Regions from separate parts of the Homo sapiens genome. Here regions 2, 3, 4, 5 and 6 are each linked to region 1. The links come from fine-mapping of genetic effects on gene expression. A gene starts in region 1. Each other region holds a variant in brackets. All regions are shown on one strand. Distances are between the middles of the regions. Region 1 holds the start of NRP1 (neuropilin 1). Region 2 overlaps NRP1 (neuropilin 1). Region 3 has its middle 76 kb from the start of NRP1. Region 4 has its middle 67 kb from the start of LINC02628. Region 5 has its middle 27 kb from the start of LINC02629. Region 6 has its middle 23 kb from the start of LINC02629.

The links. PIP is the estimated chance that this variant, and not a neighbour inherited with it, causes the effect. A credible set is the group of variants that fine-mapping cannot tell apart.
Region 2: its variant is the best candidate, but not a certain one, in a credible set for the expression of NRP1 in lung (TOPMed, PIP 0.84).
Region 3: its variant is the best candidate, but not a certain one, in a credible set for the expression of NRP1 in whole blood (TOPMed, PIP 0.73).
Region 4: its variant is the best candidate, but not a certain one, in a credible set for the expression of NRP1 in whole blood (INTERVAL, PIP 0.88).
Region 5: its variant is the best candidate, but not a certain one, in a credible set for the expression of NRP1 in monocytes (Fairfax 2014, PIP 0.86).
Region 6: its variant is the best candidate, but not a certain one, in a credible set for the expression of NRP1 in nasal epithelium (TOPMed, PIP 0.70).

Annotation. Positions count from the first base shown.
Region 1 is chr10:33,332,440-33,337,515 of GRCh38, forward strand. It overlaps NRP1 (neuropilin 1), which reads right to left and starts at 2,228. Exons shown (of 17, transcript NM_003873.7): 1 at 1,871-2,228. The coding sequence starts at 1,943.
Region 2 is chr10:33,229,296-33,234,371 of GRCh38, forward strand. All of the region lies in intron 6 of NRP1 (neuropilin 1), which reads right to left. Among named protein-coding and RNA genes, the nearest start is that of NRP1, 100 kb to the right of the region's middle. The variant G/C (reference allele first, on the strand shown) is at 3,175.
Region 3 is chr10:33,407,869-33,412,944 of GRCh38, forward strand. No RefSeq gene overlaps it. Among named protein-coding and RNA genes, the nearest start is that of NRP1, 76 kb to the left of the region's middle. The variant G/A (reference allele first, on the strand shown) is at 3,065.
Region 4 is chr10:33,665,304-33,670,379 of GRCh38, forward strand. No RefSeq gene overlaps it. Among named protein-coding and RNA genes, the nearest start is that of LINC02628, 67 kb to the left of the region's middle. The variant A/G (reference allele first, on the strand shown) is at 2,115.
Region 5 is chr10:33,874,186-33,879,261 of GRCh38, forward strand. No RefSeq gene overlaps it. Among named protein-coding and RNA genes, the nearest start is that of LINC02629, 27 kb to the right of the region's middle. RefSeq lists an enhancer at 2,921-4,120. The variant C/T (reference allele first, on the strand shown) is at 2,504.
Region 6 is chr10:33,924,912-33,929,987 of GRCh38, forward strand. No RefSeq gene overlaps it. Among named protein-coding and RNA genes, the nearest start is that of LINC02629, 23 kb to the left of the region's middle. The variant A/G (reference allele first, on the strand shown) is at 2,677.

The DNA of each region.
Region 1 (5,076 bases):
GTGTCTGGCATCTGTTACAGGAGTGAAATAAAACAGCACTGGTTCTAGTCACTCGACAGAGTCACTTCAGAAGACATTTAGGTGGACTTGGTACCACACCAGAGCTCTTTAATCTGTGACTTCTGAGAAAGTGACAGTGTAATAAGATAATGTGGACTGCTAGACTCCCTGGCTCTGTTCAATCTCTCTAGCAGTTGATTAAGAAAGAGCAGTTTCTAATGACTCTGGACCATTAGTCCTAAATAAGGTTAATGAATTAATTTAGCAGACACTGGTTACTCAGAGGAGGTGGACATGGCTTTGAGAGGTCTGCTGAGTTACAGAGGCATTTTCTGGCTCTGGTCACTTCAAGCATAGCGACATGGCTTTTGCTGGTAAAGCTCAACAACTAAAGCCAGATTTTCAGCATTCCCCAGATTTCTGCTAAGAAAACTAAGAAGTGTGTGTGTGTGTGTGTGTACTGCATATATATTTGTGTAGTTCACAACCTAAAGTCTGATAGCTCTTTGCATTGAGCTTCAAATCTATCTTGTGAACACCCCCACTATGGATTTAGTCTCAAGAGTTGTGGAGGACAGGGTTACTATAATTTCTAGTCCAACCATTTGAGCTCTTTCAGTTGGACGAGAATGCTATTTCATTCCCTGCCAGAGTATAGAAAGATGCTACCAGCTCAGGTTCATTAATAAATTGAATTCTACATTCATAATTTTTTGTGTCTTGCTTTCCTGCCAGATTATAGAAAAATGCCATCAACTTGGGCTCATTAATAAGCTGAATTCCATGTTCATAATTTTTTTTTTTGCATGTGTTTTGCTTTAAGCATCTCTTAAAATACTGCTTGGTAGCTGCTGAGGGAAATCCATTGCTAAAATCACAAAACCTTGAAAAAGCATATTAGAGAGATTAACTTCCATCATAAAGATGTGATTTAAATTCCTGTTGGTATGAGGCCCTCCACTTGCGGTCTCTTATTAAAACAATATACCACAGTAAGTAGTGGATGTTCTTTTCTTCTAATTACTGTGATTGAAATCTAAGCCAGACAAAAGTAAATATTTGATCATTAGTTAATAACAATTGCTGACGACTTACTGTAAAGATAATTGCATACCCTTGCCTGCACTTACTTTACAGTGTGAAGTCAAACATGCCTACAACCAGATCCCATTTTAAAACACATTATTTAGGTTACATGGTACTGTTTAGACCCCAGTATAGTTTTTCATTTACTTAACAGTGAGTGATTTTAAAAGCTAAGTGGAAGCTGCAACTAGCTTAGGGATTTTCAGATATCCTGGTGCCTTACACTGTATATGTCAGATTCCTGTATTGATACTATGTAACTTTCAGTCATACTCCAGACAGATTACGGAAGGTGTACAAAGGCGGGGGAGGGAGTTTCATCAACCCACAAACCGATATCTCTGGCCGTCACCCACCAGAGGAAACGGCTTAGGGGAGCAGCAAAGGAACCAGGAAGTAAGATCTCCTGGTAAAGTGTTCATTAACTTTCAACAGCCATCAGATTTTTGAAAGGGAGTCTCTTCTAATTGCCTTTGGGAGGAAACATTATTAAGATAATTGGCATGCTGATCTGGGAAGGTAGACAGCTCTGTCTTGTAACAGAGGTAAGGAAAAGCCCCACAGCCCAAGGATCAACGTCAGGAGGGAGCCCAAAGACCTGAAATCCTCCTGCTCTAAACCGCCTGATCTCATTTCTTCTTCTCTCCTCCCAGATAAAAGTTTCCTTCGCCCGGGAGTCGGTTGTTCCCGGCTGATCCCGGGAAGCCCCGCCTGAGCCCCGGTCCGGGGCGGGCAGCTGGGAGCCGGGGCGCCGCTGTCACCCGCGCCTCTGCCTGTCACTTACCGTTGCGAAAAGCGCCGGCCGGGGCGAGGACGAGGGCGAGCACGGCGCAGAGGAGCGGCAGCCCCCTCTCCATTCTCCCTTCTCCGGGTCCGCAGGCAGACGCGGGAGAACGAGGACGTGGGGGGAAATGCAGCAAAGAGGAGAATCTAAGCGATCCGAAGAGCCCCAACTCCGCCTAGAGCTGTACAATCCTCAGCCCGTCTTGGAGAAAAGAAAGCAGCGAGGCAATGCCTGGATCCGAGAGGAACGCTTCTCTTTTTGTGTCTCAAGTCGCCTGCATCCTGTCATTTAGCTCCGGCTTCCTCTCCCTTTTCCCACACTTGTTCCTCTTCCAGGAGCCACTGCCCGGGCCATGTCTCAAAAAAAAAAAAAAAAAAAAAAAAGGCCGGGGGGGGGCTGTGGGTGGGAGGGGGAGGAGGGAGGTAGGGCAACACACACCAAAGCCAATTTCCAGGAAGAAAAAAAAAAAATCCGGCTTGTTTCTGGACCCGTTGGAGCCGCGGAGCTGGCGCCCAGGGGAGGTCCGGGTGTCTGCGGGAAGGAGGGGAACGAGCAATGAAAAGATGAGCGGGAGACAGAGGAGTTTCACCAACTGCACCCCCGCCTCCCCTCCTGCGGCCTCCCCCCACTCCGGAGCCCTTCCCTCGCTTCCTCCCGCCCCTCTCCCCGCTTGGGCTCGCCTGTAATTGCCTGACAGGAGACTGGGAGGAACAACTTTCCCTCCGAGTGCTCTCCCCGTCCGTCTGTCTGTCTTTCCCAGAGACCCTGCAGGGATCTCCGCGGGAAGGAAGGCGCTGGGAGTCTGCGCCCCGGTCGCGTGGGTGCGGGCGTCGGAGGAAGGGGCGCGGAGGTCAGTGCCAGCCGCAGGGTCTGGCCAGCCCACCTCGCGTGCTCGCTCTGCACCCCTAGAGGGAGAGCTGGGCAGCTCCTGCAGGCGCAGATCCCGCCGCCGCGCAGTGCGGAGCGCCCGGGAGGTGGCGGCTGCTTCTCGCAACTTCAAATCCCGGGGCCCGCGCCCTCGGCGGCGAGGAACGCAGGGTCACCCCCTGCCACTCCTCATCGCGCCATCCTGAGACCTGTGGCGGGGAGCAGCGGGGCACCCCTGGACGCCCCTGCCCAGAGCTGGAGGGCGAGGAGGGGAAAGCCGGGCTGGAGTGGGAGCCGCACCGCGAAGCCGGGCGAGGGGCAGCAGTGTCGCTGTGGTGTGAAGCGAAGACAGACCGCCTGGGCGGGCGAGGCCGGGCTGCAGCCCCACGCGGCCTCCCTGGCCCGCATCAGGGCGCGCGGCTGGGTGCCCTCTGCGCGCCGCGGAGGCTTCATTGTTTCCCGAGATTTGGTGCCCGTTCCTCTGGGGCAGAGGGAACACCGGAGGGTGGGAGGTGCTGCGCCTTCCAAGCAGGGGGGCAATCGCCGCCCGACCCCGCCCAACCTTGTCTGGGAGCCCAGGTGCTAGGGAGGGGTGTGGAAATCAGGGGTCGGGCGGCCCCCGTTTCTCTGTGCATCCCGAGGGAGGGAAAGAGTGGCGGGGGAGGGGTGCTCTTCGCTGCGCCCTCTCAGTGTCCGCTCCCGGCCACAGACAACGTGCACGCCGGCCCTGGAGCTCCTGCCACCCCCACTTCCCACAGCGGCTCGTGCCCCCAGCCCGCTGGATGCCCCCCAGGCCCGTCCCCGAGGGTTTTCCGAGAAGTGCTGCAGGAAGCGTTTGTAGATGCGAAAAGCAAGGACATTTCTGGGAAGAAACAGGTTGCGGTCACCGATCAGGCCCCGGAGAAGGGTCAGTGCCCACGGGGCACCTCCCAGGGAGTTTGTGGGTAAGGTGAAAAGGTCACACGCCTCCTGGGGATTGGCGTCTACACACACAGCCAAAGTACAGCCTGATTCCTACCTGGCACAAATAGCTGGCCAAAGGGAGGTAGGAATGCTGGCAAGGAGACTCTGGTCAAAGGTTTTGGCGGAAGAAAAAGGGGCGGGCAGGGAGAAAGCCCAAGGCGCGCGGGCCCCAGGCCAGGACTGCGCGCTCGCGACTCGGGCTGGGAGCAGTGACGTGCGCCCCTCGGGGTGCAGGCCGTTCCCGGGCCAGTGGGAGGTGCACCCACGGAGCCCGCACTCGCCACTCTCTTGCCCCGGGTCAAGCCTGTCTTCTCCTCCCCACGCGCCTCGGGATTCCCAGTCGCCAAGTTGGAAACTCGGCCCCCCCGAGCGCCTCTTTCCTCTGCCAGTTTCCTCCTTCTTCTCAGCTGTCGGACCCCTGGGAGGCGCGGGGTGGGAAGTGGGCACCGAAGGGCTGGGAGTTAAATGCCTAAGTTGAGCGGAAGGAGCACTGTCGAAGCCATGGGCAGCCCTGCGCCCGGGCAGGCGGGCAGGCGGGAGGCGAGGCGGGGGCGCCGACCGCGCCCAGCGCAGACCCCGGGGGAGTGAGCGCCGCAGAGGCAGCCTGGGCTCTCGGCTACTACCCGCGCGCGGTCGCCGCCTCCCCAGGTGCAGCCCCGCCAGTCCCAGCCCCCGGCTGCGCCGGGCGAGCGGCATCATCAGATTTAGGGTGACCCGGAGCGACCTCGGTCCAGGCTCGGAGGGAGAGGCGCCTCTCAGGACCTGGCAGGTTGACAGGGAAGGGGAACCGGGAGGGAGCGGCGGCCGGGGCGGCCTGGAGTCTCGGAGGCCCGCCTGCGTCCTGGGGGGACCCGACCTCCGCGCTCGCTCCGGAGCGCCCGTTTGGATAGCTCTGAGCCTCGGCGGGGTGAGCGAGGGGGCACACGAGGGAGACTTGAGCTGTGTTGTTTTTAGAAAACTGCCGCCAATCTCTCTTCCCCTTTCCCTGCTGAGTGTGCATTTTCCAGCCTAGACCCGCCAGGCCAGCAAATAAAGCCACCGGATCGTGCACTCCGGAGCGACTGCCCCCACCCCGACCTTGTCTTTCCCGAAGGGAATGGCTCCTCCGGCGCCTCAACGCACAGAAAACGCCTGCCTCCAGCTGAGCGCTTTTGCCAGCTTTCTCCAACCAGTGAATAAGGGATGCACTATGGACTCAGAAGGAAATGTCATATTTAAGTTCTGCCTCTGATTTCTCTGCTCTTAGCTGATCTAAGGTTTTTCTAGACTCCTTAGTTTCCACTCACAGTGCTGGGTAATGGAGCCCTACCGCACTGATTGAGAATTGCCGGCCAGTGGGTTGGTACAGAGCAAATTGTCCTTGCTAACAACCTTTT
Region 2 (5,076 bases), 100 kb before region 1:
GCCGCAATCTAAAAGTTAATGGGGACTCTAAAAATGGTTGCTCTGAACAATGTTAACTGTTTTCAAATGCTCGCAGATCACTTAGTGCTTTTCTGACTGTCCATTAAAGTCATGCCCAATGCCACAGCTACTTTCAAGCTGAAGGGTCCTTAAAATCTTGAAGTCCGAGGAAGCATGAAGCAGAGCTATTTAAATAAACTCTTCCTGTCAAACTTACAGATGGCTCTTTAGTTTGGAAATGATTAAATTCCCAAGAGTGTGTATTCAGCTTGGGCTGATTTGAAACAACCCTAGAACTTCATTCCCTGGTTGTCCTTTTTCTATTTTTTAAATTTTGGTTTTTGGAGTAAGATTTAATTACTAAGTAGGAAAGAAGTTAACTGGTGATCAAACAGAAGATTCCTAGGTATTAGGAACAGCTGACATCAGAGGAAGGAGCAATTGACTGGAATTAACTAGTATCCAACACAGGAAGATACAAAGGCACCCAAAGCATATGCATGAATCACTCATTAAAAAAGAAAGATTTTTTTTTTCTCAACAGCAATGAAATGCATTGGCAACCTCCTCTTGTAATTGCATAGTTTCCTGCTGTGCTTTAAAACTCTGCAGATTCTCTTATTTACCACACAGGGATACTTGAAATTTCATTTCATTTTTCTCCCTAAGATTATTGCCAGTGGGTTTAGTAAGGATGGATGACAACCTCACAAAGTGATTAGGACTGGGGCTTGAACCACTGCAACTAAAACCGGATAGTACCCAGAACTCTAACAACATACAGCCTCTCCAGCACTTAGTGTGCAACCCTCACTGCTAAGACCAGGGAAGTTCTTTCCACGAGTCCTTTCTCTTAATGCCTTAGGGGAATTCTCAACAAGGATCTGCCCTCCACTCTCAAGTGCCTGAGAGAGTTTGAGGGGAGACAGATAAAGTCCTGCTCAATAAGCATCACTGCTCACACTGCTGGTGTCTGTGTCAGGAGACCTAGAAAGACTTCATGCCTTGGTGTTCATATCTGAAGAGTTCTGGAAGACACCACCCCCAAAATTTGCCACTTTGGCATGAAGATTATTTCGAGTTGAAGGCAATCGAGAATCAACAGATGCAAGAAGAATTCTATGCCCTCCCCTTCTCTGCCTAAAAGCAGGAGATACATTTCCTTTTGGGAAGGGGGCATAAATTCTCCCCCTCTACTCTACCACGATGAAGACAGCAACATTTATCAGTGGAGACTGAGATAAAATTTGCATAAACACATCTTACTAAAATAACTCCTATTTTCCATTAGTTTCTCATATATGTGTGTGTGTGTGTGTGTGTGTGTGTGTGTGTGTGTGTGTATGTATCTCCTAGTCACTTTCCTACAACTTATCCGCCCTAGAAGCCCAAACCCTCTTTCTTTTCTCAAGTCACTTATCCACAACTTATCACCCATTGTGAAAATGGTGTATAAGCATCTGAATCTATTTCTTTGGTTTTTCATTTCTTTTCTGTAAGGCTTCTGTGCATGTAAAATTTAAAATATTAATGCCTTTTTTCCTGTTAATCTGTCTTTTGTCAGTTTAATTTGCAGGCCCCAGTTGCAACACCTTAAAGAGTAGATGAAAAGTTTTCTCCTTCCCTTACAAGCCTTTCTCACTGGTGTAGATGTCTCTGCTAGTCATGACATTGGCTTCAATCTACCTTTTTAGCCTCCTGCTACACCTCTCTCTTTCCAACTGTATCACCCAGCCATATTATAATATTCGTTGCTTGTAACAGAATATAAGCCTTTTCTAGCTGCATGTCTTGACATACAAAGTTCCTTTGCCCTAAAACAACCTCTGTCTGTTTTTTGACTGGAAATGACTTTTTCCTCTTTTTGGCCTAGTAGGCTAAACCCCTTTATAGCTCATGTCCCCATCACTGAATTCATCATTCTGTTTTTGCTGTACCTCCTTCTAGATTGTTGTGTGGATTTCCTTTGAAAAGCATCTGTTTTTCCCTGCAGAAAAACTAATAAATGCCTACTGAAAATTCATAAAATGCAGTAAAGATGATAGAAGAAAATTAAGTCTCCCTAAGACCATCATTAGGAAATAATTACCAATCATAGCCTTGCAGAGTTTCTTTTCCCATGCAAAGTACCTGTGAATATTTGTATGCATGTTTTTACTTTGAAAAATAAGGTCATATTACCTCTATGCCTGATAACTGGCTTTATAATGGAGTTTTATAGACGTTCTAGTGCCACTATTTTTTCTACATCATAATTTTTAGTGGCTGTGAATATTTAGGTATTGGATCTTACTCAACTGGATTAACATTATCAGCGGGCATTTAATACTGCTTATCTGCTAAGTTCTATATTAAGTTGTTAGGATATAAAGAGCAGTAAGAGTGTGCAAAACGCGAACCCATGACTACCGTACAGACAGGTATCATGCAGCATCAAGGAAAAGGTAAACAATTTAACAGAGAACTGGAGGTGAGGGGAGCTGATTTCTATGCTCAAGATGGCTATGGGGGATAAACAGTAGGAGCTTGTGAGTGGACACAAAGGAAAAGACTGTTCCAGGGACGAGGAGGAGCAGGAATTGCAGAGATAAGCAGGAAAAAATAAATGAATGAAATCATGGACACTAAACAACCTATTATGTTTCCCTCACCACTATTGACATTACTTGTCAAAAAAAATGTATTGCTCTCTAAAGAATATGAGCTCTGGTTGTTTTGAAGTTGAAATGATCAGTAGTCATAAAACCCACTCCAAATCAAACACTACCCATCGTCTTGGTGGCTTAGCTTTTTGAATCATGCTAAGTTCTCATCAACGTCACATGCTAATAGGCAAGACTGGTGACCCAAGACAAGCAGCTGAAAAGACAAAGACACAACCCAGAGTACTTCTACACAATGCCACCCCTCTATGTTTTGGAGGGTTCATCGTCCTAAACAATACTTCCTTTCTTTCCATAAAAATTCAGACACACAATAACCATAATTAAGTAACCTGCTTTCCCTCAACCCAATCAGCTCTGCTCTAATCACCATTTTCTTATTTTGAAAGAATATCATTATTTCACAGCTGCTTTATTTTTAATTAGAAGATGGATGTGATTTCACATCTGAGTTGGATATACTTCTGTTTAACATTAAGGGTGATGGTGAGGGGGTGTGATGATGGCGGTG[G/C]GCAGGGATGGAATGGAACATCAAATGCATTCACTGAAATTGTTGAACATTTCCCTCTGTGTGTGTGACAAACATAAACATCTGGTATTTATCGATGGCATGTAGGCTATTTTACAGAACTTTATCAAACTCCTTTTGAGTTCTAGTGGCCGCTTTCTTTTTCTTTTCCTTTTTTTTTTTTTTTTTTTTTTTGAGACAGAGTCTCAGTCTGTCCCCTGGCTAGAGTGCAATGGCGAGATCTCAGCTAACTGCAACCTCCACCTCCCAGGTTCAAGCAATTCTCCTGCCTCAGCCTTCAGAGTAGTTGGGATTGTAGGCCCCCGCTCTCACGCCCAGCTAATTTTTGTATTTTTTTTTTAGTAGAGATGGGGTTTCACCATGTTGGCCAGGCTGGTCTTGAACTCCTGACCTCAAGTGATCTGCCCGCCTTGGCCTCCCAAAATGCTGGGATTACAGGCATGAGCCACCGTGCCCAGCTGGTGACCACTTTCTAAGTTATAATACATAGCGCCGTTGGCACTATAATGATTAGAAATGTGACCCAACACAATACCCTGTTTCCAATATGGATATGAAATTCTAACACTGGTGGTGGAAAGTCTACCCACAACTTACTTTCACACTGTGCTCCACTCACAATGAGAAGATCTTGTTAGCAGATACAGAAGAGGAAACCCCAAGCCTTTCCTTCTGGGTGGGGAAAATTGTGTGAGTAGAGGAAAACAGTTTTCCTCACCACTTCTAGGGGTGAAGGGGCGATGTTTGCAGTTCCTGGGTGGCGAACTCCCACCTCCCCACGGCACTGGGTTCTACCATGCTCCCAACTTACTCTTTGTTGTAAGATATCTACAGGAACCATCCACATGCACCATATGGCCATGGTATTGTCTTAGTAATGACAGGAAACACATTCCCCAGACAAAGAGAAGCAAGGAGAAGCACACATTTTACCAGGAATCACTTGAGGACAAAGCAGCATGTGTAGTAAATCATGTAGCAAATCTTTGCAAACTGCTGGTTAAACACCAGCACGCAGCCTTCCAGCCATGAAATGAATATCACTGCTTTCTATAATAATACATAACCAACCAATATTGGTAATGTCATAACGTGGAAAGCCTCATTTCTAAAATGAAAATCTGTCTTACTCAATAAATTACTGCCCATTGAGCTAGCATTGGCAAGGGAGCGTTTACCAGCTTTTAACACTCCCAAGGCAGGTCAATACAATGGCCTGAAAAAATAGAGGACAAAGAGCTGAGGTCTGATTAAAAACAGGAAAATATTTTTTGAGGGGGAGACTGTCGGATTTTCTTTGGGGCATCTCTGATGACTCAAAGAGCTGTTTAATTCATCACTTGACACTACAAGCTAAAGAAAATATTTTTAAGCAATTGTCTCATTTCCTTAGATAAAACACATGTTTTTTACAGAGCCTGGGCCTGTGAACATCAATGCTATTCTAGGCTCTGTGGGCTTAACTCACAGTACCTGACCATTGTGCTCATTAACTTAGGATCCTGGACTTCTTACTGTTATGAATCTGAATGCAGTCGCTTTAGAGTTAGTGACATAGCTCCCTATCTCTTTCTGTGTTGTGTCCCTATGGTGGTATTACCTAGAAAAAATGCTGATGGCTAAGGCTAAAATTACCATTAATAACCGGAAATTCATAGTGCAACCTCTACGTGTTAGGCATTTTATGAAGGGTTAAATTTATGTACAGTGTCTCTTTCAATTCTCACAACAATCATACAAGGGACATTTTATGGACAAAGAAACAGAGGAACAAAGTGATATGTACCTTTCTCAGAGTCACATAACTTACCAGTGTTTGACCCAGGACTTATACCCCAGAGAAGACTGGTGGCCCGTGTATGAGCTGCTACACCTATGCTATTC
Region 3 (5,076 bases), 75 kb after region 1:
TATTGTCAACTGCTGCCTGGAGGCTACAGATTATGGCAACTGGAGATTCATGGAGGTAGGAAAGTAGAAGCACAGTGTGAAGAGTAGGAACTGACCATCCATCCACCAGTGTCATCACTCCATCTGTGATAGCCCCCTTTCCCCAAAGTACCAGAGCTCCAAATGACCATGAGAAGGTCTGTTTCCAAACTTGGAACCCAGGTGCCCCGAAGAGGCAGCTGGAAAATTATTGCACCAGGAAGGGTGAGGATATCGAGGAGAGGAAGATTGAGCAAGTGTGGGCTGGAGCATTGAGAGAACAGAAGGAGGGAGTTAGGCTGATCCTTAAAAGACTCACAAAAGCAAAAGGACAGAAAAGAGAGAAAAAAATCCATCAAACAAGAAGAACCAGCAAAACAAAATTCCAAAACACATGGAGAAACCTACTGCTAAGAGAGGCAGCCAACAAAATAAACCATCAGGACAAGACATCACATGAATGAAGTCCGGACAGAGACCTACACTGAGGATGCTGAAAAGAGATAAATGAAAGAATACAGCTGTGAACAGCAACAATGAAGCAAAAGAAGGTAGAAACAAAACTAGAGTGGATAGATATGAGAAAAAAAACAAGTGCAAAATTTTGAAATTGAGAAATATAGTAATTGAAATAAAAATGAAATATTCAAAATACAGGATAAACTCTAGACTCAATCCTGTGGGAGAGCATATCAGAGAATGTGAAGCTATCACTAAGAAAATGCTCGGCAAGCAGTGAGAGATAGAAAGATGAAGATAGAGACAGGAGATGAGAGAGAGATTAAAAATATATGTGGTGGTTCATGTCTGCAACTTGGGAGGCTGAGGCAGGAGGACTGCTTGAGGCTGGGAACTAGAGACAAGCCTGGGCAACATAGTGAGACAGAAAATATAAAAATTAGCTGGGCATGGTGGTGTGCCTTAGTTCTACCTACTCAGGAGGCTGACATAGAAGGGTCACTTGAGCCCAAGTGTTCAAGGGTGCAGTGAGCTATGATTACACCGCTGCACTCTAGCTGGGACAACAGAGCAAGAACCTGTCTTTCTCTCTCTGTCTATCTATCTATCTATCTATCTATCTATCTATCTATCTATCTATCATCTATCTATCTATCTATCATCTATCTATCTATCTATCTATCTATCTATCTATCTATATGCAAAAGAGCAGTTAAGAGACATGGGAGATAGTTAAAGAGCACCAACATATATCTAATGAGAGCTCTAGGAGAAGAGAGAGGAGGAATGGGCAGGAAAAAGGAGTGACATCAATACTGTACCTAGATGGAATGTGGATTCTGTGTGCCTATAAAAAGAGATAAAAACAAATCCATATCTATTCACTTCATAGTAAACCTGCAGATATCAAAGATAAAGAGTACATTCAAAATCCCAGAACACAGAAAAGATAGATTATCCAGAACAGAATGGCTGCTAACCAAAAAGCTGAAGGATAGTAATGTGATTTTTTTAAAACCAGCCAAAGTATAATTCAAGAGTAAAATCAAAATAAAGACATTTAAAAACACATAAAAACTAAGAACCGTAGTAAAACAAATAATGCACTCTGGGGAAGAATAAATGCAATGAATAAGATAAAAGCAATTATAAAATGGAATTTGATTAAAGGATAGTAATTTTTTTTTTTTTTTTTTTTTTTTTTACCATAAAGTGACTTTAAAAAGTACAAAACAGAATTTAAACAAGAACTGTAAAATAAGAAGAAGGGGTCATTCTTCAGTGGGTTTTTAAACCATACTGACTGACACGTTTGTCATGGTCAAGAGGAGGATATAAGTATTGAAAGATAAAATATGTATTTTTTTTAAAAAAAATTCAGCGTTGTCACTAAAAGACTACAAGCACAACCTACAATTATCAAAGCCACAGAGAAAGAAAAACATACAAACAGAAATGTGGAAATATTTCATCAGAAGAAAAGGCAAAGGTGTAAAAAAAGTCAAAAAGGATGGTAAAAATTAGTCCAAATATGTGGTTGATCTTAATAAATGTAGCTAATTCAACTTATCTATTGAGAGAGAAAGAGAGATTATTAGATTGGATAGATTTGATAATAGAATACAAATCTAGGTATATGTTGCTTAAGAGACCACCTAAAGCTACACAGAAAGATTAAGGATGAAGAGAAGTAAAAAGATAAACCATGAATATATTCACCAAAAGAAACTTCGTTTGGTAATATTATCAGACAAATTAGAATTTAAGCAGAAGCATTAATAGAAACAAAAAAAGAACGTTGCATAATACTTAAAAGAGCAAAGGAATCAGAACAATCACACACTTGTATACCTCTGAGAAAGTAGCCTTGAAAGAGAAAACGCAAAGACTGATGGAAATAAAACTATACACCTTGGCATTCAGGAAGATTCATCTGCAGCCAGGCGTGGTGACTCATCCCTGTAATCCCAGCACTTGGGGAGGCCAAGGCCAGAATTTTGCTTGAGCTCAGGAGTTCAAGACCAGCCTGTGCAACACAGTGACACCCTGTCTCTACCAAAAATTCTTTTAAATTATCCAAGCTTGGTGTTGCACACCTGTAGTCCCAGCTACTCAGGAGGCTGATGCGAGAGGATCATTTAAGCCAAGGAGTTGGAGGCTTCAGTGAGCCATGATTGCACCACTGTACTCCAATCTGGGTGATGGAGTGAAATCCTGACTCTAAAAAAAAAAAAAAGAAGTAGTTTGCTTTTGGCAGAATGAATAAAATGGAGCTGTGATGTGTCCTTGAGCAAGACAGGATGTGTAAGAGCAGAATTTAGGGAGGGTTAATCTGATGACCTAAGCAATAAAGGCAGGAGTGAGGAAACGCTAGGTACAGAGATTCGCACTGGCAAGATCGGCGTGGTGATTTAAGAGTCGGTTAATAAGACCTTGATCTAGGGTGGCAAGAGATGAAGTGATCAAAGGGGAAGGGGAATCAAAACAACAGACGTGAACTGAATAACTGAATATCAAGGATAAGGAAGAGAGAGTAATCCCAACTGGAGAACGGTGGTACCGTGAGCAGAGAAGGGAATGATGGCTC[G/A]AAAGCAAGCTGGCTTTCGGGTTCATTTGACATACTTAGTTTTTGATTTACTGAGTTTTGGGTAACATCCATGAGATGACTGTTCTGAGATGGAACACAGGCAGCTGTTGGTGGGAGGAGAGGCAGAGAGCCAGTCTCTTGGTTGCCATGCTGCCTTCTCCTCATGTCTCTGGGGTGTCCTCTAATGCCCTGAGGAGGTAGATACTCTTTTTTTTAAAGTTCCAGGGTACATGTGTAGGATGTGCAGGTTTGTGACATAGGTAAATGTGTGCCATGGTGGTTTGCTGCACCTGTCAACCCATCACCTAGGTATTAAGCCCCTCACGCGTTAGCTATTTCTCTTAATACTCTCCCTCCCCCCACCCTCCCCTGACAGGTCCCAGTGTGTGTTATTCCCCTTCATGTGTTCACATTGCTCAGCTCCCATTTATAAGTGAGAACATGCGGTGTTTGGTTTTCTGTTCCTGCATTAGTGTGCTGAGGATAATGGCTTCCAGCTTCTTCCATGTCTCTGCAAAGGACATGATCTCATTTCTTTTTATGGCTGCATAGTTTCCATGGTGTATATGTACTACATTTTCTTTATCTGGTCTATCATTGATGGGCATTTGGTTTGATTCCATGTCTTTGTTATTGTGAATAGTGATGGAGGCAGACACTCATATTCACCTTCACTTAAAGAACTGGCAATGCTTGGGAGGCGGAGGCAGGCAGATCATCTGAGGTCAGGAGTTCGAGAGCAGCCTGGCCAACATGGTGAAACCCCGTGTCTACTAAAAATACAAAAATTAGCTGGACGTGGTGGAGGGTGCCTGTAATCCCAGCTACTTGGGAGGCTAAGGCAGGAGAACTGCTTAAACTCAGGAGGCAGAGGTTTCAGTGAGCGGAGATGGCGCCATTGCACTCTAGCCTGGGCGATAAGGGAGAAACTCCGCCTCAAAAAAAAAAAAAAAAAAAAAAGAAAAAAGAAAAAAAAAATAACTGGCAATGCAAAAATTTGTCAGGAAAGAAACTAGGGGAATTTCCTTAGTACATGGCCAGAAGATTCCAGCATCTGTGAGGGTGAAGGCAGGAAGGTGGTTAGAGCACTGGCCTGCCCATTCTCCTGAAGAAAGATGGTTCTCAGCTCACTGCTACTCTGCTCCCCCATTCTAAAGTAGTATTTACGGGATTTTATTTTTATTTTGTCCTGAATATTTTTGTCACTCATATTTACTACTTTTTAGTTTCTCTGCCTATTTTAGAAGTGAATGGTTCTGGATGGATGAGAAATATCATTCCCTCCAAAGTCCAGATATGATATTGAGGTTTTATACTTCTGCACAAGTTTCTGCACATCTGAGAGGTGCTTGGGCTGAACCTGGATGGCCACTCTCTGCAAGGAAGAGGAAAAGAGAGGGACAGCTCCTACAACAAGTGCAGACAGTCATGGTGGGTTGAGTAAGAGAAGGTTGCAGGAGAGTCACAGAGAGGTTGGGGCTTGTAAAGAATGTCATGAAAGAGTGCAGACACCAACAGAATGGGCGTTGCTGCTATTATCAGGATAAGCCAGTAAATGCCAGGAAAAAGATGTACCAGAGACTCCAGGAGGGTAAGTACTGCTTGAAGGAAAAAGGAGAACTAACAAGGATGGGAAAACATTTGATTTCAGAAGTTGAAGTCTCTGGTGTGAGTTGAATTAATCAGTTAATTCCTCTAAGGTTTCAGAGGGAGAAACTGGCTGATGGAGGGAAGAGCAGCTCAGTGAAGGATCAACGAGAAGGAAGAGCGCCCATCACAAGGCAGCTGAAAGCTGATTCATCATTAGGACGAGGTTCAAGGGAGAAGTCAGTGGCTGCCCACACTGGCGCATCCGTCATGGGAACTTTCTATGTCAAAACCCTGCCAATGAATCATGAACATTTTAGTTGTGATTCAGATTCCACAGCTGAGAGGGTATAGAGTAAGCTTTAGAAGTGGAAAAGTTTCTGACATATTCTGGATGGTAAGAGGAGGGTTAACTTGGCAGTAAT
Region 4 (5,076 bases), 330 kb after region 1:
GAGCCAAGATCACACCACTGTACTCCAGCCTGGGCAACAAGAGTGAAACTCCATCTCAAAAACACAAAACAAAACAAAACAACACTGGGTGACTTTGTGGGAGTACGTGGCCTTTTCTAATTTTACCAGAAACCTATTTTCTGTATAGTTTTGTAAACACTCTAGAATCATTTGGGGGTGGGTGGGGGGTCCATCCTGAGTCAGAGATTCAGTCTCAATATGGACTGTGTTTCTGAATACCTTTGAAAACAATAATCTCTCCTATACACAAAAATCACCCACAGTGCAGGGCTTCCAAAAACTGACATTGTAAGAGTAGCCCTTTTCTGGTGAAGAGAAAGAAGCACATGTGATCTATGGTAACATGGGCTGTGAGTCACCTGGTGATGTATTAACATCTGGCAGAACAATATTATTTCTAATAATGACTAGCTAAGCATTTCTCAACTCAACTTCATAGGCCCATGAGCCAGCTGCTTCCCTGAGAGATTAACACCACCACAAGCTTAAGTGGTCCCATCCAAAACTAGTTCCAGAGATACACCTTAGGGATGCAAGGTGGCAGTTTCTTAAATTTTAAAATAAAGCACCAGTTTCCCGTAGTTGAGTTCTTTTATGTTTCCTTGTTACTGAATGCTCCTTTGAAACCAAAGGTATTGATATATTCTACCCTGCAGGGAAATCAATAAAAATTTTAATCACAAAATTAAATAAAAACCAAAGCTACTGACATTACATGGTAACACTCAGTGAAGCAACAACTTCAAGTTTTATGGTTCTTCTACAACTGGCCTTATTATTTGTAGAAAAATCAATATCGGTTTTAGAGTAATTTGGGATGCATCTTGTGATCACAGAAAACAAGTTCCTGGTTGACTTTACTAAACAAGTAAGAATGAGGCATTAAAATGTGTTCCTCCCTCCCCAACCCAGAGTGATTATTCCTGGGCAGCAGAAAAAAACACAAGTAGGGTGGCCCTAAATAACATCTCCAGCTCTGTCTCAAAGCACATCATTGTCCAAAGCCCTGGGCCACCTTCTACAAAGACAGTCTGTTGCAGTGGTTGATGGGTTGAAGGACTTTCCTAGAATGATTAAAAGCTTGGGATAGTACATGAGTTAAAATGTCCCCAGAAAAGCAGCACACGCTTCATGGAACATATAGTAATAGCACCCATTTATCACATGACCTTAGTGATGTCTGGTAACAAAAGACCCTATTTCACATTTGAGGAGGAAAAAATAAAAACGCTTTTTCAGGTCATTTTCAAGTCACAGGACTATAGGCCTGGATGTAATGTTAGGAGATATTAAGTCCAATAATGTCCAATCTCTTTGTAATGCAGGGGGCCTTCGAGAGGATTTCTGAAGGATGCAATTCCCCTTAACTGTCCTACATCCTTTCTCATCATTCAGTGGCAATGCATGCCCAGAAATATGTGCATAGAGACAAACTTATATCTTCAGGAACCACGAGCTTTCCAGTGCTAATGAATTCTTAGGCTGAAAGCTTGCTCTTGTCTCCTATAATAGTGGTAACCCACAGTGTGGAAAGTGAAACCATTGGCAACCTGAACCGTGATCCTGATTCCCAGACAGTGATGTGATAACACACTTTCAATGAACTTGAAGAGAACTTTGAATTGCTGCAAGGGTTTATTGGAGTCTAACTCAATATACTTTGGTCCCCTGTGCTCTTGTGTTAGATCTTCAAAATGGCTTTTTTCCAAGACTTGAGAGTGCTCACTCAGTAAAGAAAGCAGAACCAGAGGATGGGGCCTGCTTAATGTGTGGGAGGAGCCAGCTGCTTTAGGTGTGGAGGTTTTGAAAGTCAGGAAATGAAACATAAAGACTTTGCAAGGGTGAGGACAACAGTAAACCCAGCCAAGATTAGTCCTCATGGGCCTAAAGTTATCAACCTTGAATCAAAAGAGCAGGGCTTCAAATCCAGCTATTAGCATAAGAACTATTCCCAAAGCAAGAGTTCAAACCACTGGATGACCCCACTCTCAGGAAGCAGTAGCGGTCTTCGCACAAGATGACAGTCAGTGAGGCATTTAAGGTCTTTCCGTCTCTTATGGGAGCTACAGGTCAGTGAATCACCTCCAGGGACT[A/G]AGATGGGAAGTTGGAAAAGAGAGGGTGTGGGATACTTCTGTCTTTGCCAGTAAGAGCAAAGGAATCAAGGGGTTGATTAGATACTTGCAGGTATCTATATCAGCACCTTCGACATTGGCACTTCTGTTCTCATGTTCTCTTTCTGAGCAAGTTCACTGATTAAACAATCAAGGGCTTCTTCCAGATAAGTTTCTAAAGGCAGTCTATTCCAGAAGATTCTTCATGCTTCATCGACACTGGCTTTAACATCTCCACACTTGCAGTCCACATCTTCATCGTTTTTTTTTTTTTTTTTTGAGAAGGATAAAGAAGGGAAGTCAACTTGCTATGTTGCCCAGGCTGGACTTGAACTCCTGGGCTCAAGCGACTCTCCAGCCTCAGACTCCAGAGTAACTGGAATTACAGACACATGCCACACACCCAGCTTCACATCTCCTTCATCTTTTATGATCAGGTGTCCTCCAGCAAGCCTTCACAGTCAGCTTCCTCCCTGCTCCCCAGTCCACGCTCCCCAGCTTAAGCCTCCTGTTCATACAATAAATGGAAACTAACAAACAACAATGAAGACAAAAATTTTCATCCATATCTCTATCAATGAGCTTAACAAATTGTATTATAAAATGTGCACCATATAAAATTGCCTATGTTGACCATTTCTGACAAATTTCATATAATCCAAACAGATAATTCTCTGTTTCTGTGTCTACATCTTCCACTAGATCATGAGGAAGAACTGTGTTTTGTCTTCTGATTATACAATCAGATTTTAATGAATGTCTTGGCACATCACTGGTTATCAATCAATGACCAATGAATGAATGAATGAATGAGTTAAGAGCCTGGGCTTCAGAACTGGGCCACCTTCTTGGGGAAGCCTGTTGAGGCTGAGTGCTTGACAATAAGGAAAAGGTGTGACTTAGAAGCAACCTCTCCGTCAGACAGGACGATAAACAATACACATTTCTCTGGATTATTTATTTCCTCAATAAAAACATGGCCACACTGACAGATAAACACACTATTTTATGCCCCAATTGAATGATTTTTCTCTCAGGTTAGCAAACCCTCCAGCACCTCACAGGATGGGGGCCAGGCCTTGAGTCTTGTTCTTTCATCTGGTTTTTCCATGTGTTCCTTTGACAATAAAAGCATTTTGGCTGAAGACACTGGCTTTAAAGATTTCTGTATAGCATCACACAGGGCAAAATCTGGTTTCTGGTTAGATGTGGACACACGTGCAGTGCCACGTGAATCCCCTAAGCATTTACCATATTGAACTCACCATGGTGATGTGTTTCTTGCCACATCTGATTCAGTGACCCATGTCTACTTTGATATTTGTAATGAAGCTGCCTTAATCACTAGCTTGCAGAATTTCTGAGGAGTCTTGCAGAAATGTCTTTGAGCCAAGATATTTTCTTCACAATTATGTTAAGACTTTTCCAGAATCAGATGAAGAGATGCTTTTAACTGAACATATGATAATTTCTAGTGCAAAATTTCCACCTTATCATGAACAAAATGATAAAACCAAAAAATTAAGGCCAACAATCTTTAGGGAAAAGATGGAGAAGGATAAAGAAGAGAAGTCTACTACAAAACATTCACAGATTATTTTGGCTAAAAATGATGTTCCATCCAAAATATATCTATTGGCTGGGCATGGTAGCTTATGCCTGAAATTCCTCCCAAAAACTTTGGGAGGCCAAGGCAGGAGGATTGCTTGAGGCCAGGAGTTCAAGAACAGCCTGGACAACATAGCAAGACCCTACCTCTATTAATTTTTTTTTTTTAATTAGCCAGGTATGGTGACCTGTGCCTGTAGTCTCAGCTACTGAAGAGGCTGAAGTGGGAGGATCACTTGAGCCCAGGAGCTCAAGGTTGCAGTGAGCCATGATTGCACCACTGCACTCCAGCCTGGGTGACAGAGCAACACCCTATCTCTAAAAAATAAAAATATATCTATTGACCTTAACAACTCTTCAGTGAGTCTCGGAGGTAAAATGAGTGCACTTGTTTTCCTTCTGGTTGTCACCATTTTTAAGTTTCTTTTCAGTCGGGGTGCTGAGGAAGGTTAAAAATCCAGCAACTTTGGAAAACTAAAAGTTACTGACTTCCATGTTGAATTTCATTCCTAAGTCCATGGGACAATTGTTAAATGACTGGACATCTTGACATAATCAGCAATAGGATCGATTCAAAGTTTGAGATTCAGACACTGCCCACAGGAAGGGCCAGAGAGCATGGGTAAGATGTGGAAAGCTTGTGCTTGAGTGTTCCTGCTGAGGCTCAGAGGCATCACCATTTCAGATCATTTCAGCATTCATAGTGCTTTGGCTCACAATGCCAAAGAGAAAAATAATTTTAGAGATAAAACTCCATATGTTAGTATAAGCAGATTTTACACCCAACCAGTTGATTTGCACTTGACATTCTCATCTCCAGCACCTTCCCGTTGGGAATCAAATATCAGCTCAGCTGTTCATCAGTACTCAGAGCTATAGGTGGATTAAGTCATAAACTATTAAGCCCACTTTAAAGTTCAAGCGGACGGTGAAAAGCAGAGTTCTGCTTAGGGACAAGGGAGTTTTGTTTCTCCCTGCCCCTCTGGGCTTGCATGATTCAGAGGGGATCAAGAATAACAGGTGGTGAGATCTGCCATAATGCGTAGTTTAAGTCTAATCACGTTTATATTTATGTTTGGATTTAGACATATCTAACTCCTGGTTTCTCAGGCTTTATCAGCCTGGGATCGCCCAGGGCTTGGGTGATGATCAGTGGTATTTAGTGCTAAGGCCTCACCCTGCTTTGTTACTAAATTGTAAGTCCCCCCACTGAGAGGATCCAGGGGCCAGGCTGCTTTTGTTCTCCTGGGCTGTTGCTTCCATTGGTGCTTTCTTTTTTCTTTTTTTTTTTTTTTTTTTTGAGACAAAGTGTCACTCTTGTCACCTAGGTTGGGTC
Region 5 (5,076 bases), 540 kb after region 1:
AGTGATCTATATTTTTGACTTGACTTATATCTAGCCCCTTTGAAACTGTATTCCCGGCTGGGCACAGTGGCTCATGCCTGTAATCCTAGCACTTTGGGAGGCTGAGGCGGGCAGATCTCCTGAGGTCAGGAGTTTGAGACCAGCCTGGCCAACATAGAAAAACTCTGTCTCTACTAAAAATACAAAAATTAGCTGGGCGTGATGGCAGGCATCCGTAATGCCAGCTGCTGGGAGGCTGAGGCAGGAGAATCGCTTGAACCCGGGAGGCGGAGGTTGCAGTGAGCCAAGATCTGGCCATTGCATTCCAGTCTGGGCAACAAGTGCGAGACTCTGTCTCTCAAAACAAACAAAATGAACAAACAACAACAACAACAACAAACTATATTCCCATCAGTTCTGTTCCTAAGTTCTTTAACTTTTGTTATTAAATACTTTTATTGCATCTATGAGAAAAATGCTTTTATGAAATACTGATATACTAAAGCATATAATTTCAAGCCATCTAACCATTGCATAAACATGACATGTGAAGTAGCAAACTGTATTTATTAACAACATAGTCTCTGGAGTCAACTTCCTAGCTTTGTATCCCTAGCTTTAATGATACCTATTAGATATGTAATCTTGAGCAAGTTTTTTAACTTGTCAGTGTCTGAGGTTTTATAAGTTATCTGCCTTATAACTTTTTTCTTCTTCTCCATTCTTTTTTATACTTTATTTTTTTAATTCACACATAAAAATCATACATCTTTATGAGATACATAGTGATATTTTGATGCATATATGCATAGTGATCAGATCAGGGTAATTAGCATATCCATCATCTCAAACAATCAGCATTTCTTCAGTGAGGAAAATAAGGCACATACCTCATACAATAATTATGTGAGAATTAAAAGCAATAATTTATGTAAAGTTATTAAAAGAATGCCTAATGCATAGTATAGTGCTAGACAGTCTGTTTCTATCAAATCAATATTTGTACATAATTTAAAAAATAAAATAGTACTGAGTGGGAGGAAGGGGAAGAGGGGTTCTAACCAATCCATAAATGGAATTTCCAGCCTTTAGAGATAGCTTTTTGGCCAGTTCTTGAGCCTACCCTGGGTCCAGAGTCTGTGAAATACTAAAAGGCCTTTTCATCGTCATTTCTTCCTGAAGGCACATAGATTTCCAATGTCTAGTCCCCCCTGTCTTGCATCTTCTGAAACTTCTCGTTTACCGTGTGTCCTCTCTTATCCTTTGATCTTCAACTTTTTGAAATCATTTACCATCAGCTTTGAAGCAATTGGTATGGTGCAAGGCCGATGGTCTATGTTCAGTGCACCACAGTGTTTAATTATGTTAAATATTTTACTATTTAATATAATAATAATGTTCATATTGCTAAATATTTTAATTATGTTAATTAAATAATGTTAAGTATTTTACTATATGCCGTCATAATAATGTTAAATATTTTACTATTGTTGTTATTAACACACAATAACAGTATCAGCTGATATGACTATCATAATCATCATTGAGCTTGTCTGTTCACTATGAATCTAAAAAGTTCAAACAAGGGGCCAGGCGCGGTGGCTCAAGCCTGTAATCCCAGCACTTTGGGAGTCCGAGACGGGCAGATTACCTGAGGTCAGGAGTTTGAGACCAGCCTGGCCAACATGGCAAAATCCTGTCTCTACTAAAAATACAAAAAATTAGCCGGGCCTGGTGGCACGCACCTGTAGTCTCAGCTACTCTGGAGGCTGAGGCAGGAGAATCACTTGAACCCAGGAGGCAGAGGTTGCAGTGAGCTGAGATCGTGCCACAGCATTCCAGCCTTGGAGACACAGTGAGACTCCATATCAAAAAAAAAGAAAAAAGAAAAAAGAAAATTCAAACAAGGAAGCATTGGTGAAGAGTCGGAGCCTGGGTATGTTCTGTATATCTCAGCCCGGCTCTGAATAGTTCAGCAGTAGAAAATCCTTTCTCCTCCCTCTCAGTGACACCCTGATAGTGGCTTTGCTGAAACTTTCTGGGTTTCTCTCCCCCTGTAACTTTTTAATAGGCCTCCTGACTGACCTTGACCTCCCAGAGACCCTTGGTTCCCTGCGAGTCAGTCTCTCACAAACCCATCTTAGAATTCCCGCATTTCCTTCACTTCTCTCTGTTTCCAATTGCCCCTGGTTGGCTTTCTCCTTGTCGGGTCATCAGCAGGTCTCATTAATTCGGCTCACAGATCACTGACCCAGCAAGGCATAATTGAGCGTCAGATTAAGTCCTTTAATTGTGGCATGGGGTCCTGAGCTCCTCAGAGAAAAGGATTTTGTGTGGGGGTGAAATAACAAGGGAAATAAGACCAAACGATTGCATCCCAGGATGTTTCCAACAATTCCACAAGCAGGTAGTGAAGGGAAAATTAGTATATCATAAAGAGAGGGGTGAGGCTCCATTGTGTTCTTTGACCTGGGGTTGTAGAAAAGTTGGCAGCAAGGCTGACTGGCGATCAGCAGAGACCTCA[C/T]ATCTGCTCTGGATGGTGCACATGGAGAGAAGTAAAGATGACCTTTCTCCCCTTCTTAACTTGGAGTTGTGCAATGGAATGAGGCAAGAGGCTTTGTTTGCCTAGAATGTGAATTATTGGCCATCTTCCCTCGGGCCTTTAGATACAAGGACTCAAATTTGTGAAGCAAGCTTGAGTTTCCGTTCCTGTCTCTTCTCGCCTTTCTGAGTACTGTGTAATCATCGTGCAGAGATAATTGAGATTCTGGTTGCAACTGAAATCTCTGCTCTTCCGGAAGTTTCCCTTGACTTTGGGATTCTCCAGTTAATTTTTGTAAGTATATTCTATGGAGATATAAATGCCCTAAAAAAGACTGCCATGCAATGGAAACCTCTGGTTTTACAAAGGAGATTCCAGCTCTATTGAGAAAGAGCAGAGAACAAATGTGGAAAAAATACAAAGACACAACCCCACAACAGCAAGAGTGAAGAGTTTGGAAGTGATACATGCAACAGGGCAATTGTTTGGCAACTTCCTTCCTACCAAGAGCCAAAACTGCAAGACCAAGCTAGGAAGAGTACACAGCGAATCACGCGGCCTGTGAGTACTATTAAATAAGGGAATAATTTAGGTGAAGATGCTGTCCTGGGCTGAAAACTCCTGCATTGTAATTGGTGGATAGAAAAGAAACATTGGGAAAATCTCAAGTGAGAAATCCTTGGTGGATTTAACTCTCCATTCCCACCATCCCTTAGCAAACCTCCCAGCAAGTTGAGGAGTCGTGCCAGTGGCATACAATGTTTTGGTTTAATAGACGATTGTTTATCTTGGCTGCTCAAATTCCACATGTCATCTCCTACCTTCTCATGGGTTGAATGATGCTGAATTCATGGAAGAGATAAGAAAACTTGCCCTTTGGAATAAAATAAAGAAAATACATTTTGATTTATCAGATACTTCATAGAATAAATGAAGGTATACCTATTCTTTAAATATCCCTCCACCATCCATTATTTTTCCCACTTTTACTTTCCCAGGAATAGATATTAGCAAGACTGAACAATGATAATTTACACCAGCCTCAGACCATTCAGGACATGTCCTATTTTTTTAAATTAATTTTACATTTTTTATAAAGAATTTTTTAGCAGCTTTAGGTTCACAGCAAAATTGTACAGAGCTATAAAGATTTCCCACATACTCCCCAACTCCATATGCATAACTTTCTGTATTATCAACATTCCCCATGAGAGTGGTCTGAGACCTTTGTTAAACTAAAGCAGCCTCTCTGTCCAATCACAACACTGAGTGAATTATAATACCCACCATCATTCTCCAGCTTTAAATAAAGTAAGAAAAATAACAGAGTATCTTATCATAGAAGTGACTTTTAAGTAATCATTTCGTCAAGATTCTTTTGGTAAATACAGGATTTAATTTTCCTACAGTCACTTCTGTAGGAAAATTAAAGTAGTTTATGGAAAAGAAAATGTGAGAGGTTTATTAAATTAGGGAAAACCATGGCCAATAGAGCAAAAAAGTGACGGGGTGAGGATGGTATTTAACCAACTAGCCCTACTGAAAAATACTAAGATGGCATACAGTTCTCTATCTTTCCATAAGTGGTGATTTTAAAATAATATTTGGAAGCTTGCACCTCACTCCCAAAGATGCAGCTGCTGTGCTGTTTTTCTTGGCATGTTTAAGGATCCTCCATGGGTACTGAAGAAACCTGAGCTTCGAAACTCAGCAACTCTAGAACTAGACTGCTGAATGGTTCTCTGGAGAGTTCAAATATTTGAGTGAAAAGATATGTCGAAAACTCACTTCTTGTTTGGATGCAAGGAAATATGGACACGGGACCAGGTGTGAAAACATGACGGAGCTTCTGTAAATGTGTTGGGTATCGCTGGTCTCACGGGAAGATGGGAAATGATCCTTCCCAAGCTGTAGAATCTTGGCCGAAAAACACAGCTTCCCGATTTGTACTAAGGAGACGTGTCCACCTCAGCTTTGGTGACCCGGTTTTCTTGGGGCTTTCAATTAGGAGCACATTCCTTTTCTCCCTTTACTGTTTTCAAGTTTAGTTCAGGTCAATAAGCACCTGAAGCTTTTTGGACAGCAAATAATAAGCTTAATCAGCCTCCTGATGAGTGAAAATGCTCTCTGAGTCTTACAGCACTTGAGCTCTTAGCATTTTCCCATTCAAGATAAGCCTAGATAATATCTAGGATCAAATGTGGTTGATGAGGTTTGAAGTGCCCAAGTGCTTACCCCTTTTTTTTTTTAAAGAGAACTTAGCCCTATTCCACCCATAAAAGTGGACTATTAAATGCATGGTTTTCTCGCACCAAATCTTCCCTTTTTAAAAAAATTTTCTTTGAAGCCCAAATTTAAATGTGTCAAGAAATTTCTGCAGCAAAGTTAGTTGCACATGGGATTCGAAGAGGCCAAGGAAGAGCTTGTTTCAAACTTGGAATATGGCTGAAATACACAATAGTCATGTCTGTAGAAGTTACTAAAGTCTGTTGAATTTGACGAGGGCTGGTAGAAATTGAAATAGTGGTTTTATGGAAATCAATAATCCATAAGCA
Region 6 (5,076 bases), 590 kb after region 1:
TGTGAGCCTCCACACTCAAACTTACAACCACTTTAGAAGTTGTATTTTAATGTTGCAGCAAGTAAAGCTAGAATATAAAGCCATATAGATCTTTGGGGACATTTTAGTTACTTTCCATTCTTTTTTTTTACATTTTACGACATGAGAAATAGATTCAGTTATTAGCATCAAGTGCTAAGGACCAAAATAGAAGATAAGTACCTTTACCCACCTTTATTTGGACTCACTGACATTACTGGATAGCAGTTTAGGGTTAATAATTGGTAAATTACATCATTAATCATGAGAAAAGCTCATTTATGGTTGAGAGGAGTCTCCATGTACGGAACACTAAATTTTTTTAGATGGAGTCTTGCTCTGTCACCCAGGCTGGAGTACAGTGGTGCAATCTCAGCTCAGTGCAGCCTCCACCTCCTGGGTTCAAGCAATTCTCCTGCCTCAGCCTCCTGAGTAGCGGGGATTACAGGTACCACCACCACACCCAGCTAATTTTTGTATTTTTTAGTAGAGATGGGGTTTCACCATGTTGCCCAGGCTGGCCTTGAATTCCCGACCTCAGGTGATCCGCCGGCCTTGGCATCCCAGGGTGCTGGGATTACAGGCATGAAACACTGCACCCAGCCCGGAACACCAAATTTTTTTAACACTGTATTCTCACGTGCACATGTCAATGAAAAAAATAATGAGTTAGCAATATACCACAGGACAGCCGAAGGACAGATTGTAAACAGTAACAGAGGCACAGGAATTTACAACCAGAGGCTATCACCTTATTACTAGTCATACCCATTGCTGCCTGCCATAGGATCTGCTTAAAATACTTTATTGCAAATTCCAAATTATAATTACCAATTATTTATTGCCTGGTTCAGGGATTATAGATTTTAAAAAACTTTGAATGATTAAATAATGCCTAGAAAACCTGTCTCAAAATTTTACACTCTATTATTTAAAAAAAAAAAAAGAAAAACACCTGAATTTATGAAGGGAGAAAACCCAGAAGATGTAGATGACTGTAGCTTCCAAGTCAAATCATAATTTGGTGTTATGTGCTATGTTAATTTCAGTTTTCCTACAGAAGAGTAAGGCTAATTGAAGGTTTATCTGACATTTCTTCTCTCAGTGCTGTGAATTCTATCCGTTGCCATTTTTCTCTGACAAATTGATGCACACCATTACTCTTGGAGCACACTTGGAGGCAGCTGCTTCAGCAGAAGTTACCTTTTGCTGAATTCCACAGATTGAACCAGCTATCCATTAGAGAAGACAGCTTTGGCCTGGAATTCAGTAGATGGGTGTCTAGTCTCAGCTTCTCCACCAGCTTGCTGTGTGACCTTGAAGAAGTCATCACCCCTCGGGACCAGATTTTTCCCATCTAATTTTAGAAGGTAGCAGGAGATGGTCTCTGGGGTACCCTCCAGCCTTAATCTGATGGTCTGTGGTTATAGGAGAGAAATGTAGCCATGGTGAGAATAGAGAAAAAAGATGAGTTGTCTGAAAGGAAACTGGTTCAAGCTAAAAATTCAGGCCAGCAGTGGGATCCAAAAAAATGGCAGGTAGCAGGATTTCCAGTGCCTGCTTTTTGGTTTCATAGTTCCTATCTCAGGTCTTGGAAAACCAACATCTCCAGGCAGTCGCTTTTCCATTTTGGCATCCTCTGACTCCAAGTCAGCCCTGAGACCAAACATTTGCTGCTAGTGCCCTGGTGAGGGACCCCCAGAGTCTGCACCTCCTCTTTCTTCCCATTTCCCTTTCTCTCTCATGTTGACATACCCATAGCATGAAAAATGAAAAGGCTAAATGCACAGAAGCACTAACTTCCATGTTCTCACTCATTCACAAAACCTAAACATTGAAACAATTGAACTCATGGAGGTAGAGAGTAGAATGATGGTTACCAGAGTCTGAGAAAGGTAAGGGGTACGGGGGGAGTGGAGATGGTTAATGGGTACTAAAATATAGTTAAGAGAATGAATAATATCCAGCATTTTATAACACAACAGGGTGACTGCAGCCAACAATAGTTTATTGTACACTTTAAAACAAGTAAAAGAGTATAACTGGAATATTTGTAACACAGATAAATGATAAACGCTTGAGGTGATGGATAGCCCGTTTACCCTGATGTGATTATTACACATTGTGTGCCTGTATCAAAATATCTCATGTACCCCATAAATATATGCACCTACTGTGTACTCATAATAAACTAAAAATTAAAAAGAATGAAGAGGTAGAGAAAAAGTAAAGAGAATTTATGAATATGTAGCAACAAAATAAGGAAGATGAAGGACAACCCACTTCACAAAGGAATCCTAAGCAGAGTTTACCAAAAGGATGACTTCAGATAGATATAAGATGCCCCACATCTAGCTAATGGATAATCTTGGAAAATATGGAAAGGAGAAGTAAGGGTTCCATAAGCAGACGGCTGGCTTGGCCATTCCCAGGAAGGATTGAATAAATCAAGAAATGGGGGTTAAAAAATGCTGAAACCAGGAAGAGACTATATTACCAACTCCCACGGGAAGAAGCCACAGTCCTGTGCTGGCATTATTCCAATCCGACGAGTTGGGGCATCAGAAAGCCATTCCAGAGGGAACACTCCCCAGGGTCAGATGACTGGGCTGGGCCGCATGACTTAACACGTCCTTCCTTGCTAATCTATTTTGGTGC[A/G]TGGGTGGAAGCCACAGCAGCTATGGCCCAAGGGCTCCAAGAACAGGAATCACATCGGTGAAATTACTCAAGTTGATATTAGTTGGACATTGGTTTAGGGGAATAGCATCATAAATTGCTAGTTTTGGCAAACGGTATAGTGGGATACAGTGTGTTTTCCTCGTGGACACCCAAGGTTTTCATCGCCATAAAAGCAAAAGCCACTTCTCAGTAAGCACATTTCATAACATGGAGGTCCTCATGGGATTTTCAGGTGGGTAAAGTGGTACGTGTTGGGAAGGGGAGCATTTTATATTCCATCCATCAAGCTAAACAGAAGAATGTAACAGAAATGGTTCTGACCTAGTTAGCATGAGGAGAATATTCCAACCAAGACCCCAGCTGCTTCCATAGGCCTCTCCAGTCCAGCTGGAGGGGGTGACAGACTGCAGTTGGAGCAGCCTGGTCCCCTCCATGGCAAACAGCTCCTGGGAGTGTCCTGCTAAGAAGAGGTAGGACACTGGTAGGAATCAAAGAACAATGATGCTTACTGGAGCCCCTCCAAATGTATTCCTGTTTCTCCCAGAGGACACTACCCTGTCACCCAGGAGAGTCACTTCTTTTAGAGGAGAAGACCTCCCACTGTAATGTAAAACAGATTTGCAAGTTTTCTGCTCCAAAACTGCAGCACCAAAGAAAATAGCGACCAAAGTTAAACTATGCAGGCAGCAATGCAGTTTCAGGTCACCCACTCAGATCAATCCATTTCATTGGACTCCTGAAAACGGATTCCTCATTCCTGAAATGAATTTTTCTATTGCTGCTGTGAAGCAAGTCAGTTCCTAGCTAACAAGAATTCAAGATTCATTTTCTCTGCAGTTTCTAAGCAAGCTCTACCTGATGGAGTTTTGAAATTCCAACAACCTTTTCTACAAGAATAGGGTGTCCTCCAGGATAAAACTTGACCTCCTTCTTAAACAGCTTAGATCCTAATCAAAGATTATAAGATTATATAGAGGCTATAAAAGAATAAAGTTCCCTCCCTAAAAATCCAAACTTGTGGCCTGGTAACAACATTTTAAAAAATCAGTGGCTATTTAAAGTTAGTCCTGGGTTCATTAGAGTTTCAGTACCATACCTATTACTGAGCTGATGACAGGTGGGGATTTTACAGAAATCAGTGGATCCAATTAGCACCAGGGGTCCATAAGTCAGGCACTTCCAGGCTACAAATTATTGGTGACATTTCTAAGCATAGATTGACAGTTGAATCCAGGACAGCTTTCTCTATACCTTTGAAGCATTATTAGGGAGAAAATACCCTACCCAAGTTTTCTAATCTACTGTATTAAAAAGAGAGCTTCCTAAGAATTTTATTATCACACCAGTCCATATTGCTCAGGTGACTGGTACATGCTTACTTTAATGAACCCAAAACAGGCTTGCTAGTGCTGTTTACATTTTATACTGTTAGGAACAGACATCGGCAGGCAACTAGATTGTGTAAAATTCATTATCGTGATAAGATTATAAAGTTGTTGGTTAGTAATTGAGTAGATTCTCCTGTCCCTGTAAAATTTCAGAACCCTGTCTTGCAATAAAGGAGTTAGAGTCCACTTCTGTTTTAAACTTGTCATTCTCAAACTGTTCCCGTAAAACAATAGTGCTCTATAAGCCGTGTCAAAATATCCTGCAAATAAAATCCAAGGATATCAGACACAAACAAGTCCTGGGAAGAATATTGAGTTAATGACCGTCAAGCTGGTTTTCCAACATATATTTTTCTTACAACCTCGGTGTTTGCTCCCACGTGTCTGTTAGAATACCACTGGCAGATGACAAAATAGAAGAACAAATAGCAAATGATCAGATGAAAACTCAGTAACTGAGGATCCTGCTGCTTCAACAGTCTGTTTCTTTTCCCATATATCTGTGTGTTCATGGCTGTGGTTTTATATCATAAATATATAGCATGCTCCCATTAAGTTTTGCAATTTTTCAGAAGAGGAGGGGTGTCTCGCACACAGCTCAGTTGACTCTAAAAATATGTGTCTACCTCAAGAGAGGAAAAATAGCACATGCATATTCTAAACACTGCTCTGGGACTGTGGCTTTTAACTCATTGCCTCTCAGTAGCAAGCGAAGGTCAGTTGAGAAAAACAAGGCTGAACGATATGTAGTTCATCCCTTTCTCAATCATCTAAAGCAGAAGTAAATTTTATCTGTAAAGACCAGATAGTAAAAACTTTAGCCTTTGTGGGCCACGTGGTTTCTGCCTCACCTGTTCAACTCTGCTGTTGTAGCAAAAATGCAGGCATAGACATTAAAATAAAGGAATGTGATGTATGCCAACAAAACTTTACTTACAGACAACAGAAATTTGAATTTTATATAATTCTCACACATCATGAAATATTATTC